4 linked regions of the Homo sapiens genome follow. The protein of the gene in region 4 purifies or fractionates together with the protein of the main gene of each other region. This does not show direct contact. Each region holds a gene or a part of one and is shown on either strand. Other genes may lie near its edges. The genes, in order: GRAMD1A, ATP8B2, DAGLA and MCOLN3.

What was found.
Region 1: the proteins of MCOLN3 (region 4) and GRAMD1A purify together in Homo sapiens (affinity purification with mass spectrometry; 3 studies listed by BioGRID and IntAct, with this or other methods). This does not show direct contact.
Region 2: the proteins of MCOLN3 (region 4) and ATP8B2 purify together in Homo sapiens (affinity purification with mass spectrometry; 3 studies listed by BioGRID and IntAct, with this or other methods). This does not show direct contact.
Region 3: the proteins of MCOLN3 (region 4) and DAGLA purify together in Homo sapiens (affinity purification with mass spectrometry; 3 studies listed by BioGRID and IntAct, with this or other methods). This does not show direct contact.

Annotation. Positions count from the first base shown.
Region 1 is NC_000019.10:35,017,317-35,024,338, reverse strand, and holds part of GRAMD1A (protein Aster-A), read right to left. Parts: intron 5,149-7,022; coding exon 5,030-5,148; intron 4,949-5,029; coding exon 4,806-4,948; intron 2,838-4,805; coding exon 2,734-2,837; intron 2,649-2,733; coding exon 2,475-2,648; intron 2,389-2,474; coding exon 2,301-2,388; intron 1,440-2,300; coding exon 1,428-1,439; intron 1,104-1,427; coding exon 996-1,103; intron 913-995; coding exon 792-912; intron 643-791; coding exon of another isoform or gene 598-642; exon of another isoform or gene 554-597; intron 1-553. UniProt on the Homo sapiens protein: Cholesterol transporter that mediates non-vesicular transport of cholesterol from the plasma membrane (PM) to the endoplasmic reticulum (ER).
Region 2 is NC_000001.11:154,328,513-154,335,534, forward strand, and holds part of ATP8B2 (phospholipid-transporting ATPase ID), read left to right. Parts: intron 1-285; exon of another isoform or gene 286-475; coding exon of another isoform or gene 476-563; intron 564-1,883; coding exon 1,884-1,942; intron 1,943-2,302; coding exon 2,303-2,416; intron 2,417-2,535; coding exon 2,536-2,634; intron 2,635-2,931; coding exon 2,932-2,993; intron 2,994-3,093; coding exon 3,094-3,166; intron 3,167-3,441; coding exon 3,442-3,512; intron 3,513-4,105; coding exon 4,106-4,185; intron 4,186-5,594; coding exon 5,595-5,753; intron 5,754-5,990; coding exon 5,991-6,079; intron 6,080-7,022. UniProt on the Homo sapiens protein: Catalytic component of P4-ATPase flippase complex, which catalyzes the hydrolysis of ATP coupled to the transport of phosphatidylcholine (PC) from the outer to the inner leaflet of the plasma membrane.
Region 3 is NC_000011.10:61,732,373-61,739,394, reverse strand, and holds part of DAGLA (diacylglycerol lipase-alpha), read right to left. Parts: intron 4,547-7,022; coding exon 4,393-4,546; intron 3,835-4,392; coding exon 3,751-3,834; intron 3,657-3,750; coding exon 3,579-3,656; intron 3,126-3,578; coding exon 3,045-3,125; intron 2,214-3,044; coding exon 2,071-2,213; intron 1,709-2,070; coding exon 1,640-1,708; intron 1,261-1,639; coding exon 1,188-1,260; intron 219-1,187; coding exon of another isoform or gene 97-218; intron 1-96. UniProt on the Homo sapiens protein: Serine hydrolase that hydrolyzes arachidonic acid-esterified diacylglycerols (DAGs) to produce the principal endocannabinoid, 2-arachidonoylglycerol (2-AG).
Region 4 is NC_000001.11:85,024,479-85,031,500, reverse strand, and holds part of MCOLN3 (mucolipin-3), read left to right. Parts: intron 1-2,295; coding exon 2,296-2,395; intron 2,396-5,216; coding exon 5,217-5,329; intron 5,330-5,412; coding exon 5,413-5,562; intron 5,563-5,717; coding exon of another isoform or gene 5,718-5,888; exon of another isoform or gene 5,889-6,944; intron 6,945-7,022. UniProt on the Homo sapiens protein: Nonselective cation channel probably playing a role in the regulation of membrane trafficking events. Acts as a Ca(2+)-permeable cation channel with inwardly rectifying activity.

The sequences.
Region 1 (7,022 bases), on a different chromosome or scaffold from region 4:
TTGTCCCTGGCACTAGGCTCAAACTCAGGACAGCCAGCCCACATCCAGTGTTTCCTGCAGGCCTGGCACCACTCCCAATGTCAACTTGTCTCATCCTCACAACAGTCTTTGAGGTAGCATCAGTCATTATCCTGTGCACAGAGGAGTCCACGGCCACCATGGCAAAATCACTTGCACGAGGTCACACACCGGAATTGGAACCTGGTTGTCTGAGTAGACATTGTCCCTGAACTACACTGGGTGTCTGGGTCCACTCCGTTTTGGAGATGAGACCTCAGGTCCTTTGGAGAGTCTCTCCCCTTCAGACCATGTGACCCCTTAGTTACCCCAGAGTGGGGTAGCGGGTAGAGGGACCACACGTGGCCTGCCCTGGCTGTTGTGATGTGTCAGGGGTAGGCCTGGGACCCCAGCAGCCAATGAGAGTAAGCTCCGTGGTCCCCTGTGGGGGGAAAAGGGTGGCCTCCAATGAAGCCAACCCTGGAGATGGGCACAGGGCAGAGTGGGCACGAGAGACTGACTCTTACTGCCATTGAGTGACCAAACCCGGCCGTGCCTAATGTGAGACGCCTCTGGACTTTTCTCCAGGACGTGAGCCAATCAGTTCTGTCTTCCATCCATGCTTCCATGCTTTCCCCTGCAATGCTGTGGGGTGGGGACTCTGAGCGGCTTCCTCATTTTACAGAGGAGGACACTGAGATCCGGAGAGGGGAAGTGCCTGCCGCACGGTGGGGTTTCAACACAGGACCCTGCAGCCCCGCAGCCCCGAGCCCTGCCCGAGCGGCGCCTCCTACCTCATCCAGGAGCTCCACGGAGGCCCGCAGGATCTGCCTCCACTTGTGCACCTCCACGCTGTGGAATTGCTTCTGCAGCGCCAGGATCTCGGCCCACTCTGTGGCCGTCTGGGGGAACTTGCTGTGGGGATGCCAGGCCTGAGCAGGGCCTTGGCCTCCCCCGATGTGCCCAAGCCCCCCCATTTCCCCAGGCTACCCACTCACCCCTTGGCCAGGGCCAGGCTGTGCCAGGACTCAAAGGTGTGGGCTGTCCTTTCCAGGGACCAGAGGCGGTAGAAGAGCAGGACGTTGAGGGCGATGAGGATGATAAGGCTGGGGACAGGGGTCAGAGGTCAGGATTCCTGGGGTCTAGATGCTCTGAACACCCCCAAACAACTACATCTTGTAGGGACACCTCTATCCCCCATTGCAGAGGAGGAGAATTAGGCTCAGAGAGGATGAGAGACATGCCTAGGGTTGCACAGTCCATAGCAGGGAAGTCAGTGTTCAAACCCAGGTCTGTCTGATGCCCATACCCTTGACTGCCATGCCAGGCCACCTCCCTGGGGGAGCTGGGGGGCATGGGGTGGGGAGAAGAGGCTGCAGCAGGGGTGGGGTGCAGGGAGGGGAGGGCAGGGGGAGGACTCGGGACCCTACCTCACACAGATCCTGCAGCAGCAGCAGTGAGGGGAGACAGAGAGATGAGCGCCGCCTGGCCTGCCCCCGACACCCCCAGCCCTCCTCACCCGGGGCAGCTCTTGGCTGAGAGCACCACGCCCCCTCACTGGATGAGAGCTGAGAGCTGAGGCTCAGAGGCTGAGCATGTAGCTGGCCTGACCCTCACCTCGCAGGGTCTGCTCAACCCCGGGATCCTGCTTCTGTTTCCTCCCAGCGTCCTGCCCGCCAACTCCTGCAGGCTTCTGGGCAGGAGTGTGGGTTCTCCCTGCCCAAGCCCTTAGCCTACGCGGTCTCCACTCTCTCAGGACGCCCATCCTGACTGCCCCCTCTGGCCTGGGAGGAAGCCGCCGCTGGCCTCCCAGGGCTTCCCCACTCCCAGCCCCAACCCCTCTGCCCATACCTCCCCCATCCCAGCCCGGATCACTCTGGTCTGGTGTGAGGTCTATCTTTTCCTCAAGGTCACTGCGGTGTCCTCAGCATCGCCCAGCTTAGGAGTGGGCACAGAGAACATAATGTCCATAAATGACCTCACTTGTTAGGCACACCTCTCCCTGTGCACCTAATTCCAGAATCTTTGTGTGCCTGCTCCTCCAGAAAGCCCCCCTTGATCCTTGGGTGAGGTCAGGCCCCTCTGATCTCCCATAGCCCCCCCCGGCTCTGCTGTTCTAGCAGGGAAGGCTTCTCCATGACAAACCGGCACATCCCAAACATTGCCTTGTCTAATCCTTGCTGTGAGCAAACCCACGCTCCCACTTAAGCAGAGAGCTCAAAGAGGCCACACACTTGCCCAAGGTCACACAGCCAGGAGGCAGGTTCAGGCCTGTGTGGCCACTGCTCCTGTCTCTTACTCACACAATGCTGATGAGAACCAGGGCACTGGGGATGCCTGCCCCGGGGCCCTGGTCCACAGATGGTTCGGAGAAGCGGGAGCTGAGGGAGCCTGCAGGAGAGCAGCTTGGAGTCAGATGGCCCAGTCCAGGACCCCCGATCCTCCGCCTACCCCAACCCGGCCCCAACGGAACGTACCCGAGGTGTGAATGCCGGCCCGGGCACAGGGGTCAGGATCTGGGTGCTGGGGCCCGTCCCCGTGAGCCCGCCAGCTCAGGGGCCGCTTCCGCCGCCGCAGGCCGGATAGCAAGCCCCGGGCATCCTTCCCGCCTTCCTCCAGAGACAGCTTCTCAGCCTTGGCGAGCTCTCGCTCTGCGTAAAAGAGAGGGGGCTCTGGATGTCCATACCTGGCCAGGCCATCCCCCAACCCACGCCCCAGCCGGCCTTCTGTCCCTACCCAGATGGTGGAAATAGTCTTCAATGCCGCTCCACGAGTTCTTCTCAATGAGCGACTTCACCAGGCTCCACGGCTGCTTTCGGTAGCGGATCTCAGAAGACACTCTGGGGTTGGGAGATCAGGGGAAGGAGGTAAGGGTCTGACTCCAGCCCTGGCTGCCCCGTCCCACAAGCTGAGTTTTTTCCTTCCCCTAATTCAGAGAGGGCCCCTTGTCACTCACAGACAAAACAGATGGGTTCCCTACCCCCCATGGCTTCCCTGGATACCCCATACACCACCCGCCCAGCCCAAATGCCAGCCAACTCAGCCCTCGGTCCTTCTCCACCCATGCCCACTACCTGGGCAACGCTCCCGGCGGCCTGAGCCCTGTCTACTCACAGACTGACGTCTTAACCAGACCATGCCCCTGAACCTCTTCCATTCGGCTGCTGCACCCCAGCTCCACATGGGCTCAGCTCAACATAGACAGCTGAGTCCCAAACTGACCTCCTGGTCTTTCCCCAAACCCATTCCTCCCTGCCGCCCCCATCTGGGTCAAGGGCAGCTCCGAAGTTGTAGTGATTTGGGCCAAATGCCTCGGGATATTCCTTGAGCTCTCTTTCCCTCACCGCCACATCCAATCTCTCAGCAAATCCTGTCAGCTAAACCTGCAAAATCTCTCCAGAATCTAAACTCTTCCCCCTCCATTTCCTCACCCTGATTCAGCCTCCGTCCCCTCCAGCCTGGATGTCCCAGCAGCCTCCTCCCTGGCCTCCCTGCTCCTGTACCTGTCTTTGCAGTCTGTTCCCACCAGAACAGAGGGAGCCAGAAGGAGCCTGGGACCACCTGAGTCAGGTCAGCGCCCTCCTGGCTCAGAGCCCTGGCCTGGTTGCACCTCACTCCAGGTAAAGTCAAGTCTTCACCATGAGCCACATCTGGTTCACCTTTTTTTTTTTTTTTTTTTTTTTGAGACAGGGTCTTGCTCTGTCGCCCAGGCTGAAGTGCAACGGTGTGATCATGGCTCACTGAAATCTCCACCATGTCTGGCTAATTTTTTAACTTGTTTTTTGTTTGTTTGTTTGTTTGTTTGAGACAGAGTTTCACTCTGTCACCCAGGCTGAAGTGCAGTGGCCCGATCTCGGCTCACTGCAACCTCCACCTCCTAGGTTCAAGTGATTCTTGTGCCTTAGCCTCCCAAGTAGTAGGGATTACAGACGTGCATCACTACCCCCGACTAATTTTTGTATTTTTAGTAGAGATGGGTTTCACCATGTTGGCCAGGCTGGTCTCGAACCCCTGACCTCAAGTGATCCGCCCACCTCAGCCTCCCAAATTGCTGGGATTACAGGCGTAAGCCACTGCACCTGGACCCTGGCTAATTTAAAAAAAATTGTTTTTGTAGAGACAGGGCTTCCGTACGTTACCCAGGCTACTCTTGAACTCCTGGGCTCAAGTGATACTCCTGCCTCAGCCTCCCAAAGTGCTGGGATTACAGGTGTGAGCCACTGTGCCGGGCCCCGGTTCACCACTTTAATCTCAGCTCCTACTCACTCAATCTTACTCCACTCCAGCCATTGCCCACACCCCTGCCTCAGGGCCTTTGCACCTGCTGTCCCAAATGAGTTGCTCTCAGCTCCTTCAGGTTCTTGGTGAAACATTTCTTTCCCAGTAGGCCCTTCCCTGACCAGCGTGTCGGGTGTAAAAGCCTCCACACCCTGCTTCTTTAGCCTGCCGTGTTTTCCTCATTTTTCTCCATAGGCCTAACTGCCAGTGAATGTTCTGCAGATTTTCCTGATCATTTCTCTATTGTCCAATTCCCCACTAGAATATGAGCTCCCTGAGAGAGGTGATATTGCCTGGCTTTGCTGTATCCTCAGAGTCTTGAGGCTCAAACACCCTCTGTAGATGGGAGGAGCCATCCCAGGGCCACTCTTCCTCTACCCTCCACTATTCGGAGGACAAGGGCCTCAGGAACCCCACGCTTCTGTTCCTCCACCAGGGTGGGAACCAAGGCTCTGCTGCTGACTTGAGGAGTGGACAGGAGGCCCTGGGGCCACCAGGGCATCGGGTGGAGGGGCCCAGCCACCACTCACCGGAGCCGCGCCTTGTTCCGGGCCAGACCCAGGATGCAGTAGCGGTGGGCAGTGTAGAAGTAGTCCTGGTAGGGGATGCCCTGCGTCAGCACCTCGGAGTCCACCACACACCCGCCGGCCTGGGGGCCGCGCCGGAACAGCGTCTGCAGGGACAGAGCCGGAGAAGTCAGGGCCACCCCACTCACCCAGCTGCCCCACCCACTCGGCTGCCCCACCTGGCCCACCTGTGTCTCCACCACGGAGGCGCTCTTGGGGCCCAGTGGGTTGCTGATGGGGATGGTGTACGTCAGCACCCGGCGCTGGTGGCACTTGCTGTCCCCACTCCAGGGGCTCAGCGTCACGTCTAGAGGAGGGAGGAGCAGCATGAGGAGGCCACACCCCAGTCCTTTGCCCACAGGCCACAGGAGACTCAGCCTTCTGGGAGGTCTCTCTGGGGACCTGTCCCAATCCCCACCACTCCTCTGTGTCCCCACCTTCCTTCCAGGAGCCTAAAACCTTAGCTGTTGGGGCAGGGCCATCTCCTCCACTGCTGCAGCCTCAGTTTCCCCCTCTGCACCCGTCTTGGCTTCTGCCCTGAGCATTGGACCTGTAATCTTTTGAACACCTTCCCCTGGAAGGTCCCTGGACCCCTCGAACCCACCGAGCTCCACACAGCCTCAGCATCTCCCCAAACCTGCTGCATCTCCCAGGCCCCCACTCAGGGGTGGCCCAGGGTCCTCCAGGCTCCCACTGGAGCGGTAGGCCTTGCCCTGGACACCCCCTACTCAAACCCCTAGATGGTTACCTACACTGTGTGTTCACCAAACCTCCTGAGCGTCACTCCTGGTTCAGCCCATCTTTGCCTGCCCAGTGCCCCTGCCAGCCTTCCCTTGAGTGTCTGGCCTCAGTCTCCCCATCTGGTCCAGGGGCATCTTGTTAAAGCCAAGCCTGACTCTATCCCTTCTCTGCCTAGAACACTCCATGGCTCCCCAGTACCCCTAGAACAGAGTCTGAGTTTGGTATAGTTTGGATATTTGTCCCCACCCAAATCTCATGTTGAATTGTAATCCCCAATGCCGGAGGTAGGGCCTGGTGAGAGGTGTTTGGATCATGGGGGCGGATCCCTCATGGTTTGCTGCTGTCTTCATGATAGTGAGTTCTTCCGAGATCTGGTCATTTAAGTGTGTGGCACCTCCCCTCCACTCTCTCTCACTTGCTCCCCCTTTGCCTTTCAGCATGATCAAAAGCTCCCTGAGGCAGCCGGGCACAGTGGCTCACGCCTGTAATCCCAGCACTTCGGGAAATTTGGGAGGCCGAGGCAGGAGGATCACCTGAGGTCAAGAGTTTGAAACCAGCCTGGCCAACACGGTGAAACCCCGTCTCTACTAAAAATACAAAAATTAGCTGGGCGTGACGGTGGGCGCCTATAATCCCGGCTACTCAGGAGGCTGAGGCAGGAGAATGGCTTAAACCCAGAAGGCAGAGGCTACAGTGACTCAAGACTGTGCCACTGCATTCCAGCTGGGGCGACAGCAAGAACCTGACTCAAAAATAAATAAATAAATAAATAAATATGTGTTAATGATCACAAATTTAATGTCCACTCTGTCAGGCCTATGCAGGGCTTGGAGGCCAGTGGGAGACCAGGATAGATGAACTCCTGTCCTTAGCACCCAGAATCTCTTGAGAACAACAGGAAATATCTATAAATAAAAACCACACACTACTGGCATGGTGTGAGTTAAGGGCAGAAGCTGTGAGTATCTGGGGGTATCTGGGATCTGAGGAAGGTAAGGGAAGGCTGCCAGGAGGATGTGAAATCAAAACCAAGGCCTGAAGGAGGAACTGAGGAAGGAAGGGGTCGGGGCAGAGGAGCCCAGGAGGCCGCGTGATACCAGTAAAGGCCCTGAGGCTGGAGGCCAATATTGAGAGAAGTCCCCTGAGGCTGGGATGGGGCAGCCAGGTATGGAGAGGGGCAGCCACAGCTCTGGGTGAGGCTGAAGGGTTGACATGGGACCAGCCAAGGAACTTGGGAGGCTACAAAAGAGATTCAAGCAGGGGAGGAGCGTGTCAGATGGGAGTTTCTCTTTGTTTCTTTTTCTGTATTGATGAGACATGCAGTATCCCCTGCAGTCAGGAAGATGGTGCCTTGTGTTGGGGGGCTACAAGGCCCCCAAAACTATGCTTATGTCCTAAAAGGGCTGGCGTGTCAGGCTGAGGAGCTCTGTATTAGGCCAT
Region 2 (7,022 bases), about 69 Mb from region 4:
ACCGGTTCTCCTGGTTTTTCCGCGGGCGGGGGTGTGTGTGTGTGAAAGCGGTTGCCCCCGACAACGCCGGCAGTCCGCTCACCCGCATTGGCCCGGCCCGGGGGTGGGAGGGGAGGCGGGGCTCGCGCGCGAGCTTTCGCCTACGCGGCGCGCTGGCAGGCTGCGGCTCCTGCAGTCGGGGAGCGGGCGGGGGCGGAACCCTGGGCGTGCTCGGCGTGTCCGGGGCCACTCAGCGCACGCTGGCATCCGCCGGGGGGCATGGGGGGCGGCGGCGGCGGCGCAGCTGAGCTCGCGGTGTCCCCGAGCGCCGGCGGCCGGGAGGATGGCCTGGGCTGCGGGTGGGGCGCGCGCCCGACGGCTGGGGCTCCCCTCTGAGCGGCTGCGGCTCCTGCACCTCCCCGGGGAGCCGCCCCGTCGATGCCACTAAGGCCAAGGACATATAGACGGTCTGCCCTCCCCCACTCAAACCGGGATCATGACGGTCCCCAAGGAGATGCCCGAGAAGTGGGCCCGGGCCCAGGCGCCTCCCTCTTGGAGCCGAAAGAAGCCCTCTTGGGGGACAGGTAACGGGAGGCAGCGCCTGGCAGCTCTCCCGCACCCATTATTTCCCCCCTCCAATCCCTACATTCACTTGTCCCCAGCCTCCCCCTACCTGCCTTGATCCTCTTTCCAGACCCAGAGATCCTGGCTCCGAAGGATCCAGTCCCTACCTTCTTCGTTTGCATGGTCTTTGGTGATTGCGCAGGGGACTTGGCCCAAGAGAGCCCCTCTAGGGAAGTTTATGGGAGTGAAGTGGCTTGGTAGGCAGGGGGCACTGTGGCCTGGGTTTTGTTACTGCAGTGTGCTCTGCAGGGGTCCTGGGGTGTGTAGAAAGGGTTCTGGAATGCTGTCTTTGGCTCCCGGACAGGCTTAAGGCATTAGGTTTGCTGCCTAACCAAGTTACCCCTTTTTGCAGCATGAGGTCATGGTGACCCCCGGGGAGACGGGCTGGGGAATCTATTATAGGACAGCTCCTTGTTCTGGGACATGAATTTGATGCCTGCAGTCCCAGACCTGCAGAGGTTTCAGATAGGTTTAGCTAGATAGGTGTCACTAACTGAGTGACAGATGAGCCCTTTAAAGCTAAATGTGTGCAGATGGTACAAGGAAGGTCCAGTTAGAGAGCAACTGTTTCAATTACATTTCATTCCTCCCTCCTCTATCTCTATCTCAGTCTGCATGACCCATATCCCTGAAACGCACCCCCCACACCTTTTTCTACTTGAAGATGAGCTTTGAAATAAGGTGATGTCATTTCGGGCCAGTCAGAAGCAGTTGCTGGTGACATGTGACAACCAGAGGCTCCTGTAGGGGGGACTGCACATGGGGCTGGGATGCTCCCGCAGAGCAGCTCCAGGGCACAGGGAGCCTCCTTCTTGCCACCTACCCCACTCTCTAAATAAGGGAGAGAGCAGTACCGCGACTAGATCTGCAGTGGTCCCCAGGGGGAAGGAAGCTTTGCGTTTTCAGCGCTACTCCTTGATTATGACAATGTATGCATTAGTAATAGCAGCAAAAGGGGCTGGGGAATCCCAGGACTGTCAGTGGCTCAGATTCCTCTGGAGTGGGGGTGGGGGAGACAAACTGGGTGCTTCCAGTGGAAGACCTTGAAGTTTGGTGGTGAGGAAAAGAGAACATGTCCTGTCCTGTGAATGTAACCTGGAGAGCCGTGTGGTCAGGCTGCTGGTGAGAGGTGGACTGGAGGGAAGAATTTGATGACCCCCTCAGTTGTGGAGCTAACTCCTTAAAATGATATTCTGTGGAAAAAAACAGGGAACCCCCCAGCAAAGTGTTGGTCCAGACCTCAGTTTGCTCCTCCTGACTGCAGCATCATTTTGTTGCAGAAGAAGAAAGGAGGGCGCGGGCTAATGACCGAGAATACAATGAGAAATTCCAGTATGCGGTAAGCGACTCTAGACCACCTGTTCCCTCTCTCTGTTTGGAGAGGGGAATGGGGCAAGGACAACCTACCGTTGGGACTGAGGGCTGCCTGGGAAGAGTGCTTGGGGGAGGGGAAGCAACCTCCTCAGCCACTCTCCATCTGCTATCGTGCTGAATTTTTCATGCCTTCACCTGTCAGTGAAGCAGAATACATTGACCCCCTTGAGACTCCCTTCTCTCCTCCTCTTTCCCCCTCCCACACCTGTGTTTGCTAGCTTTTGGGGTAGAGGTCTGGGGAAGTATAAAGATGGGGGAGGCAGCCTCAGTCTGGTTCTGGGTTGGGACTGGAGACTGCTCATTATCTTCTCTCCTACTGCCATAGAGTAACTGCATCAAGACCTCCAAGTACAATATTCTCACCTTCCTGCCTGTCAACCTCTTTGAGCAGTTCCAGGAAGTTGCCAACACTTACTTCCTGTTCCTCCTCATTCTGCAGGTAGGTGACCCATAGTAGATTTTTTGCAGCTCCCCAAACTGAATAAAGCCAAGGAAGAGGAAAGGGAATGAAGGCATCAGATGGGGCCTCAGAGGCATACTTCTCTTTCTTTTTTTCAGTTGATCCCCCAGATCTCTTCCCTGTCCTGGTTCACCACCATTGTGCCTTTGGTTCTTGTCCTCACCATCACAGCTGTTAAAGATGCCACTGATGACTATGTGAGTGGTTTTCATTCTTCTATTTTGTCCCAGTCACCCACCCCTACTCCCAGCCCCACCCCCATCTCATGGCCACCTTCATCCAGCACAATTTCTTGGTGACCTTGACATCCCTTACCCGGTCCAGCTAGATCCATGATGTCTTTTTGCTGAGCGTGGGGAGAGGGAATCAGGGAGTGAACTGGTTTGTGATGGGGTGTGTATGAGGCGTTAACCAGCATGCTCTGAGTTCTACTGATCAACGAATTCCTTCGAGGCGGGGGAAGGTGTCTTACCTTTCAGTTTTCTTCTTTTCAGTTCCGCCACAAGAGCGATAACCAGGTGAATAACCGCCAGTCTCAGGTGCTGATCAATGGAATGTGAGTGCCTGTTGGAGACAAGAGCTCTGGGGACGAAGGGGGTCCCTTAGGAACCTCTTTAGCTCCTGACAGCCTCTTCACTGTCTTCTCGTTGCCTCAGCCTCCAGCAGGAGCAGTGGATGAATGTCTGTGTTGGTGATATTATCAAGCTAGAAAATAACCAGTTTGTGGCGGTAAGGGACAGGGTACCCCTCTAGGCCTGTAGGTTCTTCCTCTTCTTTGTGAGAAAAGGATGAATCTTTCCTGATTTACTGTTGCCTCTTAAACACCCGTGGCAGGAATCTTTCTCACACCAGGGGCTTCTGTGTCATGCTGATATGCCTGGAACTAGCCATTTATGCACCTGGAACTAAGCAAACCAAGAATGCTTAGTGGAAGGAGCCACCATTACAGCCCACTGGGGGTGGAGGTTTGCATATTTGGACTTCTCATTAGTTTTTCTCTCTAGGCGGATCTCCTCCTCCTTTCCAGCAGTGAGCCCCATGGGCTGTGTTACATAGAGACAGCAGAACTTGATGGGTAAGTGGCATGCTCAGTGTCAGCCCTCTCCTTCTGTCTCTTTGGAGGTAAAAAGATTGTCTTTGAATGAGGTTCTCAGGCCTGGGCTCTGTCTGAATTTGGAAAAATTAGGGGTAAGAAAGGCTTTGGATGGGATGTGTGAAGTGTTATTCAACCAGTATTTGCTGGGCTGAGCAGTTATGCACCATGCTTAGGTGTCACCAGGTAGAATTTAGAGGATGGGGAGAGGTGGGCATGGTGACTCACTCCTGTAAATCCCAGCACTTTGGGAGGCCAGTGTGGGAGGATTGCTTGAGGCCAGGAGTTTGAGACCAGCCTGGGCAAGATGGTGAGACTTCATCTCTATAAAACAAACAAACAAAAAATTTAAAAAGTTTAAAACTTAGCTGGGTATGGTGGTTTTAATGCCTATAATCCCAGCCACTTGGGAGGCTGAGGCGGGAGGATTGTTTGAGCCCAGGAGTTCGAGGCTTTAGTGAGCTATGATTGTGCGACTGCACTCCAGCCTGAGCAGCAGAGCGAGACCCCATCTGTGAAAAAAAACATTTAGAGGATGAGGAGGGAGCGGGGACTCAGAGATACTGTCCTTCCAGCGAGACCAACATGAAAGTACGTCAGGCGATTCCAGTCACCTCAGAATTGGGAGACATCAGTAAGCTTGCCAAGTTTGACGGTGAGTAATTTTGGAGGAGCAGCCTGAAGGTAGAGGAGTGGGGTTGGGTTTTGTTTGGGGGCGTTAAATTATACATTTTCCTTTGGGCTTTTTGTTGTTATTATGCAACTCCCTGGACTGTTTTGGGGAGGGGAGTGTTTGTAATGTCATGTGGCTCCCTCTTGGTTTTGAGTTTATAATTATTTCAAGGGGACTTTGTGGCTGATAGCTCCCCACTTGCTATGCATGTTGAGAGAAATTCAGCTTATTCTTTTAGCTTATTAGCTCAGAATAATAATATGTGTTCCTTATAAGACAAACCATACAGAGTGTATAAGAAAAAGTGAATAGAGGTCGGTACCATGGCTCACGCCTGTAATCCCAGCACTTTGGGAGGCCGAGGTGGGCGGATTGCCTGAGGCCAGGAGTTCGAGACCAGTCTGGTCAACATGGTGAAACCCTGTCTCTATTAAAAATACAAAAATTATTAGCTGGGCGTGGTGCTGCATGCCTGTAATCCCAGCTATTCAGGAAGCTGAGGCAGGTGAATCCCTTGAACCTGGGAGGCGGAGGTTGCAGGGAGGCGGAGGTTGCAGTGAGCTAAGATCGTGCCACTGCACTCCAGCCTGGGTGACAAGAGCGAAACTCTGTCTCAAAAAGAAAAAAAAAATACAAAAATTAGCCGGGCGTCGTGGTGTGCATCTGTAGTCCCAGCTACTTGAGAGGCTGAGGCATGAGAGTTGCTTGAACCTGGGAGGTGGAGGTTGCAGTGAGCCGAGATCGGGCCACTGCACTCCAGCGTGGGCAACACAGTGAGACACTGTCTCAAAAAAAAAAAAGAAGAAGAAAATAGCTCTTCCTTCCTCTTCTACCCTGCTGAAGTAGCCACATTAATTGACAGTCAGTGTGTGCTCATCCACACTTTTCATACATGTTTGTACAAACAAATATTAGGTCATGCTGCAGCTTTTTTTTTTTTTTTTTTTTAAATACTCCTGCCCAGGTTGGAGTGTAGTGGTGCGATCTCGGCTCACTGCATCCTCTACCTCCCAGGTTCAAGCGATCCTCGTGCCTCAGCCTCCCGATTAGCTAGAATTACAGGCTCCCACCACCACACCCGGCTAATTTTTGTATTTTTAGTAGAGACAGGGTTTCACCATGTTGGCCAGGCTGGTCTCAAACTCCTGACCTCAGCTGATCCACCCGCCTTAGCCTCCCAAAGTGCTGGGATTACAGGCATGAGCTGCCGCGCCCGGCCTGCTTCATTATTTTCCTGAAGAGTTGCATCAGCTCACACTCCTCCCAGCAGCATATGGATGGGCCCTTGCCCTTGCATCCTCTTCGCTCAGCTCATTTTCTCTTTGTTTTATTGTCTTGTGGTTAGGCTGTAGACTGGACCTTAAGCAGTGGAATTCTTGTCTCCTGTTCAGGTGAAGTGATCTGTGAACCTCCCAACAACAAACTGGACAAATTCAGCGGAACCCTCTACTGGAAGGAAAATAAGTTCCCTCTGAGCAACCAGAACATGCTGCTGCGGGGCTGTGTGCTGCGAAACACCGAGTGGTGCTTCGGGCTGGTCATCTTTGCAGGTGAGCCTCCTAGCATCCAAAGAAAGAAGGGTAAGAGTGACTCAGCCAGCCCTCACTCAGGAGTATGGGATGAGGTGGGAGAATACCTAAGGTAAAAAACCTCCAGCTGTGTATACAGGCTTCTTATCTAGCCAGTATCTCTATTCCACCCTGGTGTCCTGCAGTCTGGGGATCAGGGCAGAAGCCCAGAGGCAGATGTGTTATTTGGCTTTCCCAGCCCTTCCCATTCTTTTCCAGGTCCCGACACTAAGCTGATGCAAAACAGCGGCAGAACAAAGTTCAAAAGAACGAGTATCGATCGCCTAATGAATACCCTGGTGCTCTGGGTGAGGCGCCCCACATCTGGCTCCCTGCCCCTGCCCTCTCTTCTCCTTGGGTGCTCCTTTTCCTTTCCTCTTTCTTCTTTGGTCAGTAGACTTCAGGTTTGGCTTTAAAGCTGCTAGCAGGTCAGCTACACAAAGGCAGTGTTTATTTTAGGCTCCTTTTAGTTGGAAGATGTTATTTAAAAAAACTTCAGGAACGTGCATGAATCAACAACTTAAAGCTAAAACAAATCATCCCTTCTCTGATTCCAGTTATGATGATGACTTTGTGAAGCATGTGACCTTCTGTTTGCTTTTGCCAGGGACAAGGAGGCCTTCATGGGGATGGAGAGGGAATTAAAAGAAAAATTTCCATTTGGAAGAGGTTGGCAGGGTCTTTTCCCCCCAACTTCTAAGAACGAAGGATCCCAAAGGAAAAGTTTCTGTTTAAGTTTTTGGCAGTTCCTGAATCCTTCTCTTGTTTAGCTAGAAATCTGAACTCCTTGTTGGGCTCTCCTCCCCTTCCTGTGCCCCGACTGTCTGCTGCCTGCCCGCCACATGCCAGCTTGTGAAGGCTGGGGCTAGCCTCTGGTGAGCTTGTTTCCGCCCTGGCTTTAAAGAGTGTGCGGAAACCCAGCCTGGTGGGCGAGGTTGTCTATCACATAAGGGCTCCAGTCGCCCCCTGGTGGCCATTGGGCACCAATCTCCTATTTTGTTTCAAAGCCTAAACAGCGGAGGCAGCTTTGGAAATAGATGTAGGAAATTGGACAGTGGCCTGGTTTTTTACCAGTCTCTCCAGAGACTCCAAAATTTATAAGATTTTTGACTAATCAGGAAATCTAGACCAGGAGTGGTGGCTCACACCTGTAATCCCAGCACTTTGGGAGACCAAGGTGGGAGGATCATTTGAGCCTAGGAGTTCGAAAACAGCCTGGACACCATAGTGAGACCCTGTCTTTACAAAAAA
Region 3 (7,022 bases), on a different chromosome or scaffold from region 4:
ACCGAGAAGGGGGGCTCAGCAGGTGAGAGGTGGGCAGTAAGATGGCAAAGGGGCAGGGGAAGGGCAGTGGCCAGAGCATTAAAGGTCGGTGCCCACCTGAAGAGGCAGTGGCTGAGGTGCACGGTGGCCAGACGGCCAATAAGGTGCCAAGGACAGATGACATGGAATTGTTGAATTTCAGGGCTGGCAAGGGGCTGGAAGCCCAGCCAACCCCTCATCTAGTAGATGGGGAGACAGGCCTAGTGAGGGGAAGGGACTTATTCTGGATCACTCCACAAGTCCGAGGCCAAACACACCCTGGAGTTGAGTCCAGCTGGACCTGCCAGGCCTGGCCTGACAAAAGCCCAGGACTAATCTGGTGGGAGCAGTTCCACCTCCCCAGAACCAGGCTCCTCCAGGCAGGCAAAGTCCCACAAAGCTTTGCTGCCCTGCTCACTGCCTGGCACCTGGTACCTGGCCCAGGGCCCTGCCTGCCACAGGGTCTAGGGCACCAAAGCTGGGAACGGTCCAGACGGGGCTGAGATGGTGAATGGGCTGAGGGCTCGCCCGGGGCAGGGGGCGGGGGGCAGGGGGTGAGGAGGGGTGACCACACAGAGGACCCTCTCCTCCTGCGCTGGCCTGCCTCAGTGTGCCTGGCCACCATGTCCCCACCCCCACCTGGCCACCCCGTCTGCCAGTGTCCTCCAGAGACCTGATGCGGATTAGGAAGGGCTGACCCTCTCCTCTTGGTCACAGCAGAAAATCAGAACAAACTGTACCCAAATCCTCTCCACAGGTCATTCCCAGCCCTCCCTGAGCCTAGGGAATCTCAGAGGCTTCGGCAGAGGCCTTTCCTCACCGCTCAAAGCCTCCAGATCGCTTTCTCCTGACTGTGGGCAGCTCCCAGCTCTGTGTGATGGGAGCCTCTCGGTTCCTGTCCTGATTCTGTTCTAACTTTTTATGTGAGCAAATGCAAGTCCCTCCCACTCTGGGTCTCAGTTTCCCCATCTGCACAATGACAGGGGATGGATGGGTTGAGCTTGGGGATGCTGAGGGTCTGACTTCCTGAAGTTCCCACAACACCAGCCACACCCTGCCCTGGCCTTCCATGGCAGGGCCTCTTGTGCTTTGTCCCAAGAAACCGGTGGGGGTCAAGGGCAGGGACAGATGAGGCTGCACAGAGGCAGGGTGCCCAGGTGGGGGCTCACTTTGGGCTTGGTGCTTCGCTGCAGGACATCCAGGAGCTGTCTGCGGAAGCCTTCCAGCTGAGAGAGGCCAATCCTGGGGAGGGAACGAGACAGGGCCGTCAGCCAGGCCTGGTCAGCGGCTATGAGAGGTATGGGGCCAGGGGCGGAGGGGCAGGCACACGCCTAGCCCCTGGAACAAGAAGACACGTCAGCCAGGGTCACGGGGTGGAGAGGTGTCCACAGAGCAGCTCCCCAGAGCAGAGCTGAGGAGTGAGAGGACAGGCAGGGCGGGCGCCAGCACGTGCGTTCACCTGGGCTTCTCACCACTGGGCAACTAAGGGTGGGGAGGGGCGTGGGGTCCCTTGAGAGACAGGAATCGGACTGAGAGAGATGCGGGGGCTGGGGGTGGGGAGAGGCCTGGAGGAGGGAGGAACAGCCTGGCAAGGGACCATGGAGCGGGGCCAAGGACTCACCTGGGGACGAGGTCTTTGCCCAGAACCACAGCAGTCACGAACTCCTTGGAATACTCCATCGCATCCTCACTGCAAGGGAAGCCGAAGCAGAAGCTAAGGCCAAGGGGGCGGGGTGGTGGTGTTCCGGAATCGGGGGGCCCAGCCACAAGCAAGCCCTGCTCCTGCACTCCTGGGATGGCTCCCGGGGAGCTGGCTGGTGGCAGGCTGGGTTGCCTGCTCCCTGCTCTGTCTTTCCCACTGGTAAGGCTTTGCTAGGTAGATCCTGGGGGGCGCATGGCATTTCAGAGCCCCCACCCTCCACCCTCCAGGCCACTCCCAGACCTCCATGTGACCAGAAGTCAGACTCCCAGTCCAGCCCCTAGCACCAGCCAACCCTCAGCCTCCACTGGTCCCAACTGCCCCAGCCAACTCTGAAGCCCCAGATGGCTCACCTCAGCAGGCCCCCTGGCGGGGAGTAGGCAAAGCACTTGAGGGTCGGATACTGTGGGCGCAGAAGGAAGGAGAGGATGGCAGCAGTGCCCGCGCCCAGGGAGTGGCCCACCACAATCAGGCCGTAGTGTTTGGTTCCGCGGCCCTGGAGACCGAGAGAAGCCTGAGAGCCCTGCCCCAATGCCCGCCAAGCGACTGTCTTAGCCAACCCAAGGGAGGCAGAGGGTCTTCCCATCTTCCCAGAGTCCTGGGATCTTGTCTGTGCTGTGTGAATGCTAGGGCACAGAGAACCAAGATAGGGCCCCACAGAGCGACTGCTTAGGCAGACTGTTCTAATAAACTCTTATTTACGCTTCCAAACCTTGCTCAGAGGTTATGTCCTTGGGGAAGCCCTTCTGATTTTCCAGGAGTGGCTCACTCCCTCTAGTCATTGCATCTGTACCTGGGATGGAGCTTTTTATCACTATAAACATGTGGTTACCTGACCCCATCTCTCTACCCTCACTACTAGACTGAAGTCTCCTGAGGCCAGAGCCTGCTTTGCTTTGGAAAGGGCAGCTGGTGGCACCTCAGGAGCTACCTGCACAGACCGTGGCCAGTGGGCAGGACTCAGTTCCCCCCTAGGTAGAGCAGCACCCCTTCTCTCTGCTCTGTATTTTGAGCCTCTCCATGTTTCCTTCTGACAAACGGTTCTGCAGCTATGAGGCTTAAAAGCCGTCTGCCCTGAATCATCTTTGTGCCTCTAGTGTCTGGCATGAATCAGGTGCCCAATGACTGTAGGTGGGGCGGAGCAGGATGCCCACAGGACCTGGCACAAAAGAGGAGGGGTTGGGAGCCAGGCTGGAAGGGATTGCAGGAGCCTGGCTTGTGTGGGAGTTGTGAGGCTCCATCACCCATCCATCCTCTCCTCTCTGTGCTGCGTTGGAGGAGGGGGACCCAGGTGTGAAAAGGCTTGGTGCCATGGAAAATTCCTCACCAGGTCTCGCCCAAAGGCCTGGGACAGGACCATCTCCTGCTCCAGTTTCTTCTTGATGTACTCAGCTGAGAGGACCATACCCTGGGTGGGCAGGAACAGAAGCAGGTGTTGGTGGGAGGCCTCCCAGTGACCAGCAAACCCACAGTGACCTGCAGCTCAGGAACCCTGCCCCATCCATTTTTCCCTTTGGGCCTCGTGACAACCCAGCTGTGGGGGCTGGCAGACACGCTGATCCTGTCACTTCCATTTCACAGGTGGGAACTGAGGCTCAGAGGGGCAGTGTGGCTAATGAAGCTGGTATGATCTCTCCGCAGCTGCCTCTCAGGTTCTTCCATGGTCAGGCTCTGGGCTGTGCAGGGCAGTGGGGTCGCAGCAGTGGGCCGCAACGGGCCTTCCAGACTAATTCATGCCTCTCTGACCAATCTCTTCCAGTGAGCCCAGCGAGCAGGGAGGAACCCCCAACCATACACGCCTCTGCACACTGGCAGGGCAGGAAAGAAGCCCAGGGGCCCTGGGGTCCATGACGTGGGTTACCTTGTGGCCCAGCCAGGTGCCGTGGTGCCCCTCCACGGGGAGGCGCTCAGCATCACCCGTCAGGTCAGTCAGGGCATCCTTGGGGAGAGAGGAGACAGGTGAGGGGGCGGCTAAAGAGGACAGGAAGAGGGAGGCAGGCACCCCCGGGGGCTGGGAGCCATGGGCAGCGTACCTTGGGGGACAGGGTCCCCCGGATACTGATCACCACTTTCTTCTTGTCATGGTCCACCGCCACGTAGAAGGGCGTTTCATAGACCTAGGAGGCGGGCAGCTCGTGAGCCTGAGCGGCCCTGGTGGGGCCACACTCAGGGAAAGTGACCTAGGCAGGTCTCCTTCCTGGCCAGGAACTCTGGCTCCACCAGCCACGGAGCCTCTGCCGCCAGAAAGGCTGACGGGCTCCCAGGGTCACTGGGGATCTCCTCCCGATCCCAGCCACAGGCCTGCCCTGCCCTCCCCGCTCCTTGCTGGCTCTGGCAGCCCTGAGTGCCACCACTTGCCCCTGAGTCCAGGTGATGGCTGCCCCTCCCTGCTTCTGCCCTCAATTCCTTTCCCTAAAGGGCTAGGGCTCGGCAACCCAAACACTGGGTGTGGGGTTGATGTCTGCTTTCCCAGCCCCAGAGGTGGTACAGGCAAGCCAGGGTCTGGGGAAGAGAAGGGGGCCACCTCTGGTCTGCCCAGCTAGGGATGCCTGGAAGCTGCAGCCAGCCAGCACCAGCCAAGCAAGGGCTCCTGCCGGCCTGGAAGGATAGCCTCAGCACCCTAGGCCCTCAGCTGCCTGCTCCTGACACCAGGCCCCAGCCCTGCCCGGCCTCACCGCATCATGGCAGGAGGTATAGACGATGTCCACCGCAGTCATGTTCTCGTCCAGGAAGTGGCGCCGGATGGCAATGGCATTACAGCCACAGCAGTTGTCTTCCTCGATGGTGACTCCAGGGGCGAACCGCGGCCTCGCAGGACACAGGCAACACCTAGGGTGGGGTGACAAGAGAGTTCAGGGCCAGGGAGTCCCCGAGGGAACAAATGTCTCCTGCCACTGTCCCTGGAACCAGTTCCAGTTGGGCATTCAGCCCCACTGCCTCTACCAAATTGCCCTTGCTAAGTCCTAGTGACCCCCACGTCACCAAATCCACTGGCCACTCTTAGCCTTCCTCTTAACTGAGCTCTTGGCGGCACCTGACCCTGTGGGCCCTTCCCTCTCCCCACCTGGCTGGGGCCCCCTCCTCTCTGGGATCTCCCCTCCGGGCAGGGCCTACTCAGCGATGCACCCAACACTGAAGCCCTGGGGTCCCTCTGGGGGCACTGGCTCCTCCATGCACTCATGCAGTCTTGTGTTTTAGACACCATCTGCATGCTCAGGAATCCACCCCAGGCCTGCCCCAACACCCAGATGCTTCCATCCAATGGCCTAGCCAGCACCTCTCTCGGACACCTGACACCCTGCCAGCTCTCAAACCCCTTCCCTGCTTGTGTACCCCAACCCTCCTGAGGTCTTCCCAAGGCCCCTCGGTGGCTTGGCCTCTGGCTTGCAACTGTCTGTGGCTCCTCAGCCCTCACCCCCACGGCCATGCCACTCGGTCAGTACACGTACTCGGCTTCCCTTCAGACTCAGAGCTGGACTCCAGGCACTCCCTCACCTCCCCTACCCCTGCCCTGGCAGCTCTGCCTGGGACTGTCATGGTGGCCTCGACTGGCCTCCTTGCACTTGCCCCTACGCTCTCAGCTCAGCAACAGAGTGGCCCTTTTAAGATAAGTTGAGCCACATCATTTTCTTTTTAAGACCCTACAGCAACGCCCTGTCTACCCCACCTGGCTCTGGTCTCTCTGACCTGCTGCCAGCGTGTTCAGCAGCACCTGAGACAGCGTGGCCTGGCCCTTGCTCCTCTGGGCCTCTGTTCAAACGTCCTGTCACAGTGAGGTCTCTCTTGCCACCTCATCTAACAGCCAGGGCTCCCCAGGCCCCCAGCACTCCCCATCCCAGGCACCTGGCTTTATGTGGGTCCAAAGTGCCCATCCGCTCCACCATGTGCCCTATTTGCCTTGTCTATGCGCTGTCCGCCTCCTCGCTGGGCAGTGAGCACCACAGAGAGGTCCACAGCTGTATCCCCAGCACCCAAACAGGGCCAGGTACACAGTAGCCTCCCCACAGAAATGAATGAGGCAGCCTGGGAGCTGGGCACCCAGCTAGGTGCAGCGGCACCTCAGGCCACCAGAGGGAGCCAGCATCCAACTGCTAAGGCACCAGACGCTGGAGCCCACGTGACTGGGCCTGCCAGCTGTCACGGGATGACAGCTGAGATTTTATTAAGAAGCTTGGATTCTGGTGATGCTAGGAGGTTTGTCTTCACTCAGAGCATCACCTGAGTGACTATTACACACTTTCCAATGGGGAGAGACTTTGCTGAGAAAGCCACAGTGCTTGCTGGGGGGACAAAGCCGATGTACAATGGGAGAGCATGGTCCCCCACACTGCAGGTCAAGTGGTGATGGGCCAGGGTCTAGGGGCTGAGCTCCTGTGCTCGGCAGCTGTTCCCTCTCCAACCTCAGCTGAGCATGAGGCTGTAACAGTGTGGCCTTTGGAGACTGGAGGCTTGAGTTTGAACCCTTGCTGTATCACTTCCTGACCGCAAGGGCCTGGAGGTCACTCAGCCATTCTAAGCCTCAGTTTCCTCTTCTGTAAGAGCAGGTGGTGACAGCTACTTCACAAGGCTGGTGTGAGATCAAGGGTCCAAGATGCAGAAATGGTCTGGCCTATAATAGGTTCTTAATAACGAGTGGCTCCTCGCTTCTCCGGTGACAGGGCTGCCTCTGAGTCAGTGATGTGTGGGCCAGGAGGACCAGTCAGGGGAGCAGGGCCAGCACCCCGGATGGGAGGGCCCTGGGGCTCATCCAGGGCAGGGCTAGGGCCAAGCCAGAAGCAGGCCTGGCTCGCTGTGCTCTGCATGGGCTGAGAACTGCTGCCAGGGGAGAGGCCTGGGCCCGAGGCAGATGGGCAGCCCTTCTCCCTCTGGCCAGGCTGTTATGGACAGGCTGGGGCACTGGACTCTGGCCTCCTCCCAACACCCTGGGCTGCAGGCCTGCCTCTCTCTGCCCCACAGGCACCTGGTTCTTCCAGGCAGGGGCCTGGCTGGGCCCTCATGAGGTCTAGGGACTCTGCTCTCTCTGCAACACTAAGGCACCTAATACAAATGCCAGCACCCCTCCTGTCTGCAGAGCACCAGAGAGCCCTGCCTGCCAGTGATACCCTGGGTTCTGAAACACCCTATGGGCAGGCAGGACAGATACCACCTGTTACAGTTTAGGAAACAAAGGCTCTAAGAGCTGTCCCCACACCACCAGTGAGTAATGGAGCCTGGTGCTCATTTTGAAGAGTTCTCTGCCACAGCTGGGACTCCCAGGGATGCAGGCAAGAATGCCAGGCACATGCAGCTGACAAAGATGGGAAGG
Region 4 (7,022 bases):
TACAGGTGATATTTTGATGCCAGCATTCAGTGTGTAATGATGAAATAAGGGTAATTGGGACAACATTCACCACCTCAAATATTTACCACTTTTTTATGTTGAGAATATTCTAAATCTACTCCTCTATTTATATTGAAATATAAAATAAATTATTAACTATAGTTGCCATATTGTGCTACTAAACACTAGATCTTATTTCTCCCATCTCACTGTATTTTTTTTTTTTTTTTTGAGATGGATTCTCGCTCCATTGCCAGGCTGGAGTGCAGTGGTGTGATCTTGGCTCACTGCAACCTCTGCCTCCCGGGTTCAAGCGATTCTCCTGCCTCAGCCTCCGGAGTAGCTGGGACTACAGGCACACGTTACCACGCCCAGCTAGTTTTTGTATTTTTAGTAGAGATGGGGTTTCACCATGTTGGCCAGGATGGTCTTGATCTCTTGACCTCGTGATCCACCCACCTCGGCCTCCCAAAGTGCTGGAATTACAGGCATGAGCCACCGTGCCCGGCCCTCACTGTATCTCTATACCTATTAACGAACTCTTATTTATCCCCCACGCCTCCCCAATACCCTTTCTAGCCTCTGGTAACCATTATTCTATTCCAAGCCTTCCTTTGCTAAAGGTAGTTTCCTTGGCTATAGAATTGTAGGTTGACTGTTTTTTTCTTTAGCACTTTAAAGATGTTGCTTCTAGCTTGCATTATTTCTAATGAGAAATCTGCTGTCATCTTTATCTTTGTTCTTATCTATGGGATGTTATTTCCCATCTGTTGGCTTTTAAATTTTTCCTTTATCTCTTACTTTAAAACAATTTGATTGTGAAATGCTTTGATGGTGTTTTCTTAATGTTTCCTGTGTTTAAGGTTCATTGAGCATCTTGGATCTGTAGGTTTATAGTTGTCATTATATTTGATATTTATTCAGCATGATTTTCTTAAAATATATTTGTCACTTCCCCCCACCTTTTCAGAGATTCAGAGACAAAAACGTCTGTATTTGGTTACTTGGAGTTGTCCCATAGTTCAGTAATGATCTGTTTGTTTTATGTCTCAGTTTTTTTCAGTGTGTTTCATTTTGGATATTTTCTGTTGCTATATTTTCAAATTCACTGTTTTTTCTTCTGTGCTATCTAATGTTTTCTAATCCCATCCATTATTTTTCTTCTTTCTTTGGGATTCAGTTTACTGAGATGTGATTGACATTAAGTCCCAGTTTTTTACTCAATAGATATTTAGTGAGCACCTATTATTTGTACAAGTTGGAGGCCCTTTGTGTAGGAAAAGCATGGCTTCTCCGTAGCAAGGATTTCTGACTCAATCAAGTAACACTGAGCGTCCTCCTTGCACGAGGCCATAGGCTGGGTCTTGCAGCCGTTAGGGATATGGGCAGACACTGACTGTGCCCTCAGTTGCTTGTCAAAGAAAGAAGCTTACAATCCCTCATGAGGAGAAATACAGTGGTTGAACTTTTAAAAGTCATTTGAAATCTTATATTTGAAGTGTTTCTGATTACCCCATATGGAGAAGCTTCAATACAATTTATTTAAATGACAAAGTTTTCAAAGAACTTTTTTTCTTCAGGACTTGAGAGAAAGAGAAGAGGCAGAAATGAAACGGATTGATTTTCTTGCCTTGCCTTCCCTGTCCTTGCATAAGGAAGACAGTAGGAAAACTATGGAAGGTGTTCTGGCCTAGCTTTGTCCTGCTTGGCCCCTGGTGTCCTGAAGTGGTTATTCTTGAAGCAAGATGTGACTGTTGACTCCCTGTCACCAAACCCTTTATAATACATGTAGTGCCAACGTGACTAAGAAATCTAGGCCCAGAATAAAAATCAAAAAAGCTCCACTTGAAATGTCTCAAAGCAGAAATAATGAGCCTTTGTATTAGTAAGAATTATAGCAGCACTAAAAATCTACCCCTAACTGAGGTCCTGCCGGAATTTGGGAGAAAGCACAGTTGTACCAGTTCTTGCTCACATGAAGAAGGTATCTGGAGGTACTTAGAACAGAGAGCAAGAGGAAGTGCTCTTGTTATATAAGTTCTTTGGAGTGGAAATGCTGCCCTAGACATATAATGTTTTAGAGACTACAGGGTCTCTGTAGAAGATCTAGTTCATCGTTCTCATTTCACAGAGAAATGAAGAGAACTTCCCATGGTTGAACAGAATTAGCAACAGATCAGAGTTGAGAATCTGGGTCTCCTGTCCCCTTGAAAGAATTGTTTCCTAATTAATGTGTAGAGGTTTCTTGGCTCCAAAACTATAAGTATGTTTTTGACTGTTTTCCTGTCTTCACAGATAACATTTGACAACAAGGCCCATAGTGGAAGAATTAAAATAAGTTTAGATAATGACATTTCCATCAGAGAATGTAAAGACTGGCATGTATCTGGATCAAGTAAGTGATGCGCATTACTAGTTTTCAGAATGGTTATTAAATAATGTAAAATGGTTATTAAAATAGCACCCTCTGGATATCTAGAACAACAAATAGAAGATTAGACCATTTTCAAGTCCCTAAACCTCTACAAGTAGATCAACTCTGATGTTTCAGGCAATATGTGAGTCATGAATAACTGAAATGGCCTTCCTCTCCTTGTGCCCTCACTTGCCCACTCCTGACCAAGAATGTACTCACAGTCCCCCGCCACCAAAACCCTACATACATCTTCCCAGACCAACACTTACCGAGTGCATGCTGTGTACCTACTTCCACCTTAGTTTTCTTCATTTTAATATTTTTAAATGCCCTTAAGATAGGGAGAATCCTTATTTTTACAGATGAAGAAACTAAGGCTCAGAAGCCAGGGGCAAGTCAGGTAGGATGTGACCCTGCAGCATCCCACATATTATGATTGTCTTCAGTCCATTTAAAAGTGTACTGAAAGAGGAAAGGATCTACTCTTAGAAATATGGACAAAAATTCAGGTGTAGACCAAATACTGTCAAGAATTTTGGAGCTGAACTGGAGAGAATTGCCTGGAAAGAATTTATCTAATTTTCTAGTCTCTCATAAGTGACATAATGGTACATCGTACTGGACTTAATGGTCGCTAGATGAGGAGTTCTCAGATTCTAATCAGCAGAAGAATCATCCTGGGTACCTGCTATGATGCAGTTTCCCCAGCTCTATGCAAGCCAGTAGGTCTGGGGTGGGGCCTAGAAATGTGTAAATAGTCCTTACTCAGACTATACTTGGATAATCACAGTTCTAAAGTTTCTTACTAATTGATTTGCCAAGTTCAGACGTAATAATGAGATAGAGTAAATAAAATGAAATTTTGCCATGATAGTATTTTTTTCACTAATAGGTAACTTCAAATATATGAGGCTCTTGAGTCACATTTGAAACATAAGCCTGTTTTGTCATCTGTATACTTTATAATCATTCTCCACAAACACCAGAATGAGGAAAATGACAGCATACACAAGTGTCTGGCACCTAGGCATTCTCTCAAATGTTTGTTTCTTAATTTGTAAGTTTCTCTAAAGTCAATTTAGACATTTATGTAGTAATTATGCTCCTTGGCAGATACTAATGGGATGCTTCATCACAGAGCTAGTTTTAAGTACTTTCTTTTTTTTGTCAGCAGAGAGCAGTCTAACTTGTTAAATAGAGACAAGCTCTGTGGCAGTGTACAATGGCTGACACCTCTGCCCACCTCTCTCCATTGGCTCCACGCATGGTGGCCAGGACTTCGCACTTTCGATTCTCCAAAATCTCCATAAGGGTGGCTCTTTCTTATCACTCAGGTTTCAGCTAAAACCCCCTGCTCCCTCAGTGAGGCCTTCCTTTACTATGCAATATAAATCAACCTCTCTGCTTCCACATTGCCCGACACTAACCTCCCTCATATAGAGCAGTAGGTCTCAAACTTTAGCATCACCTGGAGGGCTTGCAGAAACCCAGTTTCTGATTCAGTGGGTCTGGAGTAGGACCTGAGAATGTGCATCTCTAACAAGCTCCCAAAAAATGCCAAGAACCACTGACATAGAGTGATGGACACTGGAAACAAACTGCACAGATTTTCCCCCAGCTCTTTCACTGACTAGCCCTGCAACTGTGGGGAAATCATGTGACCTCTCTGTGCTTCAGGTTTCTCGCCTGCAAAGTGGGGATAATCATGCTTACCTCATTGGAGTTGCTGTGAAGATCAAATAGGTTAACACATATAAAGTGTTTAGAGCTATGTTTGGCAAGAAATGTGCTCAATACATGTTAGCTATTGTGATTTATCTTCTTTCTATTACTTACTCCTATCTGAAAGTATTTTGTTATGTGTTTGTTTACTTCTTTGTAGTAGAATAGAAGTTCCACAGATCAAGGGCCTTGTCTATCTTGTTCACCACTGTATCCTAACATCTAGAAAAATGCCTGACACATAGTGAATGCATAATAAATATTTTATACCTAGATAAGTACATTTTAATAGAATATGCAGGGAGATGGGCCTGGGCATGGTGGCTCATGTCTGTAATCTCAGCACTTTGGGAGGCTGAGGTGAGAGGATCACTTGAGACCAGGAGTTCAAGACCAACCATGGCAACAAAGTGAAACCCTGTCTCTACAAAAAAATTAAAAATTAGCCCGGTATGGTGGCATACCTATAGTTCCAGCTACGAGGGAGGCTGAGGAAAAAAAAAAAGAATATGCAGGGAGGTAATTGTATTAAGAACAAAAGACTACAGGCTTATAATTAAAGATCTTGGAATGATAGTTGTGGTGATTTTTCTTTTTTTTTTTTTTGAGATGGAGTCTCGCTCTGTCACCCAGCCTGGAGTACAGTGGCATGATCTTGGCTCACTGCAAACTCCACCTTCCAGGTCCACGCCATTCTGCTGCCTCAGCCTCCCAAGTAGCTGGGACTACAGGCGCTCACCACCATGCCCGGCTAATTTTTTTGTATTTTTAGTAGAGACAGGGTTTCACCGCATTGGCCAGGATGGTCTTGATCTCCTGACCTTGTGATCCGCCTGCCTCGGCCTCCCAAAGTGCTGGGATTACAGGCATGAGCCACCACACCCAGCCTCAGTTGTGGTGATTTTTTAAAAGAAAGACTTTTGCCCTTCTTCAAATACTAATTGGAAGACCGTTTATCAGGGCTTCTTTGTTGTCTTACCAGAAAGAATGCTTGAATTATTTAAATGATTCTAAAAAGAAGATGTCACCATATTAATGTCCCACTACATAAGCACTATGTAATCCTCTTTGCTTTCAGTTCAGAAGAACACTCATTACATGATGATCTTTGATGCCTTTGTCATTCTGACTTGCTTGGTTTCATTAATCCTCTGCATTAGATCTGTGATTAGAGGACTTCAGCTTCAGCAGGTAGGGAACGTTGCTTTCTAGGAATGCTACTGACATTTTGATTGACAGAGACATTCACTGTGCCTCCCCTCTTTTCCCTAAAGGAGTTTGTCAATTTTTTCCTCCTCCATTATAAGAAGGAAGTTTCTGTTTCTGATCAAATGGAATTTGTCAATGGATGGTACATTATGATTATTATTAGTGACATATTGACAATCATTGGATCAATTCTAAAAATGGAAATCCAAGCTAAGGTAATTTTTTTCCTAATCATGCTATTGTTAGTGTCAGATTTGCACTAATGGTAATGTATTTTTCCAGAATGTAAGAATTTTCAGAATGAATTGTTTCTTCCAAACTGTATATCAAGTAGACTTGAAATTGGTAATGGTAATTTTCTTAAATCTAGTCAGGAGGTCTCTTAGGCAGAGTTTTTCAAAGTGTGATCCACAAACCATTGCATCAGAATCATTGGGTGCCTGGTAAAGTGTACCATGTTAGACCTACTGAATTCAGACTCTTCGGCGGGGCCTGTGAATTCTTACACACACCAAAATTCATACACAACCAAGGTAACTAAGGTAAGAGTTTTTTTTTTTTTTTTAATCTTACAAGAAATGCTCGAATCTTTAACAAAAATGAGTGGGGCTATAGGGGAAAGTGAGGTCAAGGCACTATGGTGTGCATGCTTGCATTTGTTTCCTCCGTCCATTCAAAGTGAGAATGCTCCCATTTTCTTACTTTACCATTGATGTGCTACAAGCTTATTTATTTTAAGACTAACCTAGCCTAAAAATCAACTGTCCCCACAAAATAAAAATCACATTAAAAAAACTAATAGTGTTCAGACTAATCTTGCTCAAACTTATGTTTCCCTAGTCTTGATGCAACTGATTGAGTCACCTGGGGAGTTGGTTATAAACCTGGGCAGAGACCCCAAATGCAATGGCTCAGAGAAGATAGGAGCTTATTTCTGTCTTATGCAATAGTCAGAATGGGTTTTACAGACTGGTGAGTAGCTCAACATCTCACAGTCATTCAGGCACCCATGTTCCTCCCATTTTGTTTCTCTGCCACCCCTTAAGGACTTGCCCTGACTGCATGATTATTGCCGTGTTGCCTCAAACAGGTTGCAGCTTATGGGAAGCAAAAACACGGTATGGTAGAAGCTCTCCCATAGACTGATGGCTTGGCTCAAGAGTGGCCGACTTTATTTCTGTACATATCCCACTGGATAGAATTTAGTCAATCCTAACTGCAGAGGGAGCCAGGGAACACAGCCCAGGCATGTGCCTAGGAAGGGGAGAATGGGTTTAGGTTGACACTTAGCAGCTGCCACTATATGTGGCTATAGTATGTATCATTGGAATAGATGTTTAACTTTAGGGACAAATAAAAAACCAAAACAAAAAAAGGAGTAAGGGGAGAGATTTGCAGCAAATCTTTATTTTTACCAACCTCAACTATCATTAATTTCAGTGAACCCTAAATGGTATCCAACAAAATATCTTTCTAGACCATTCACCGTCTCTGCCTCATAGATGATCATATCATGTTTTCTTCTCTTCTGAAACCTCTAATACCCTTGTCCTATCCTCATTCTAAGCTGATGACCTTACTTCCTATTTCACAAAAATAATAGAAAAAAAAAACAGAATTTCCACAAACCCCCACCTAATTTATCTGCCTCCTGCCATCAGTGCCAATATACTGT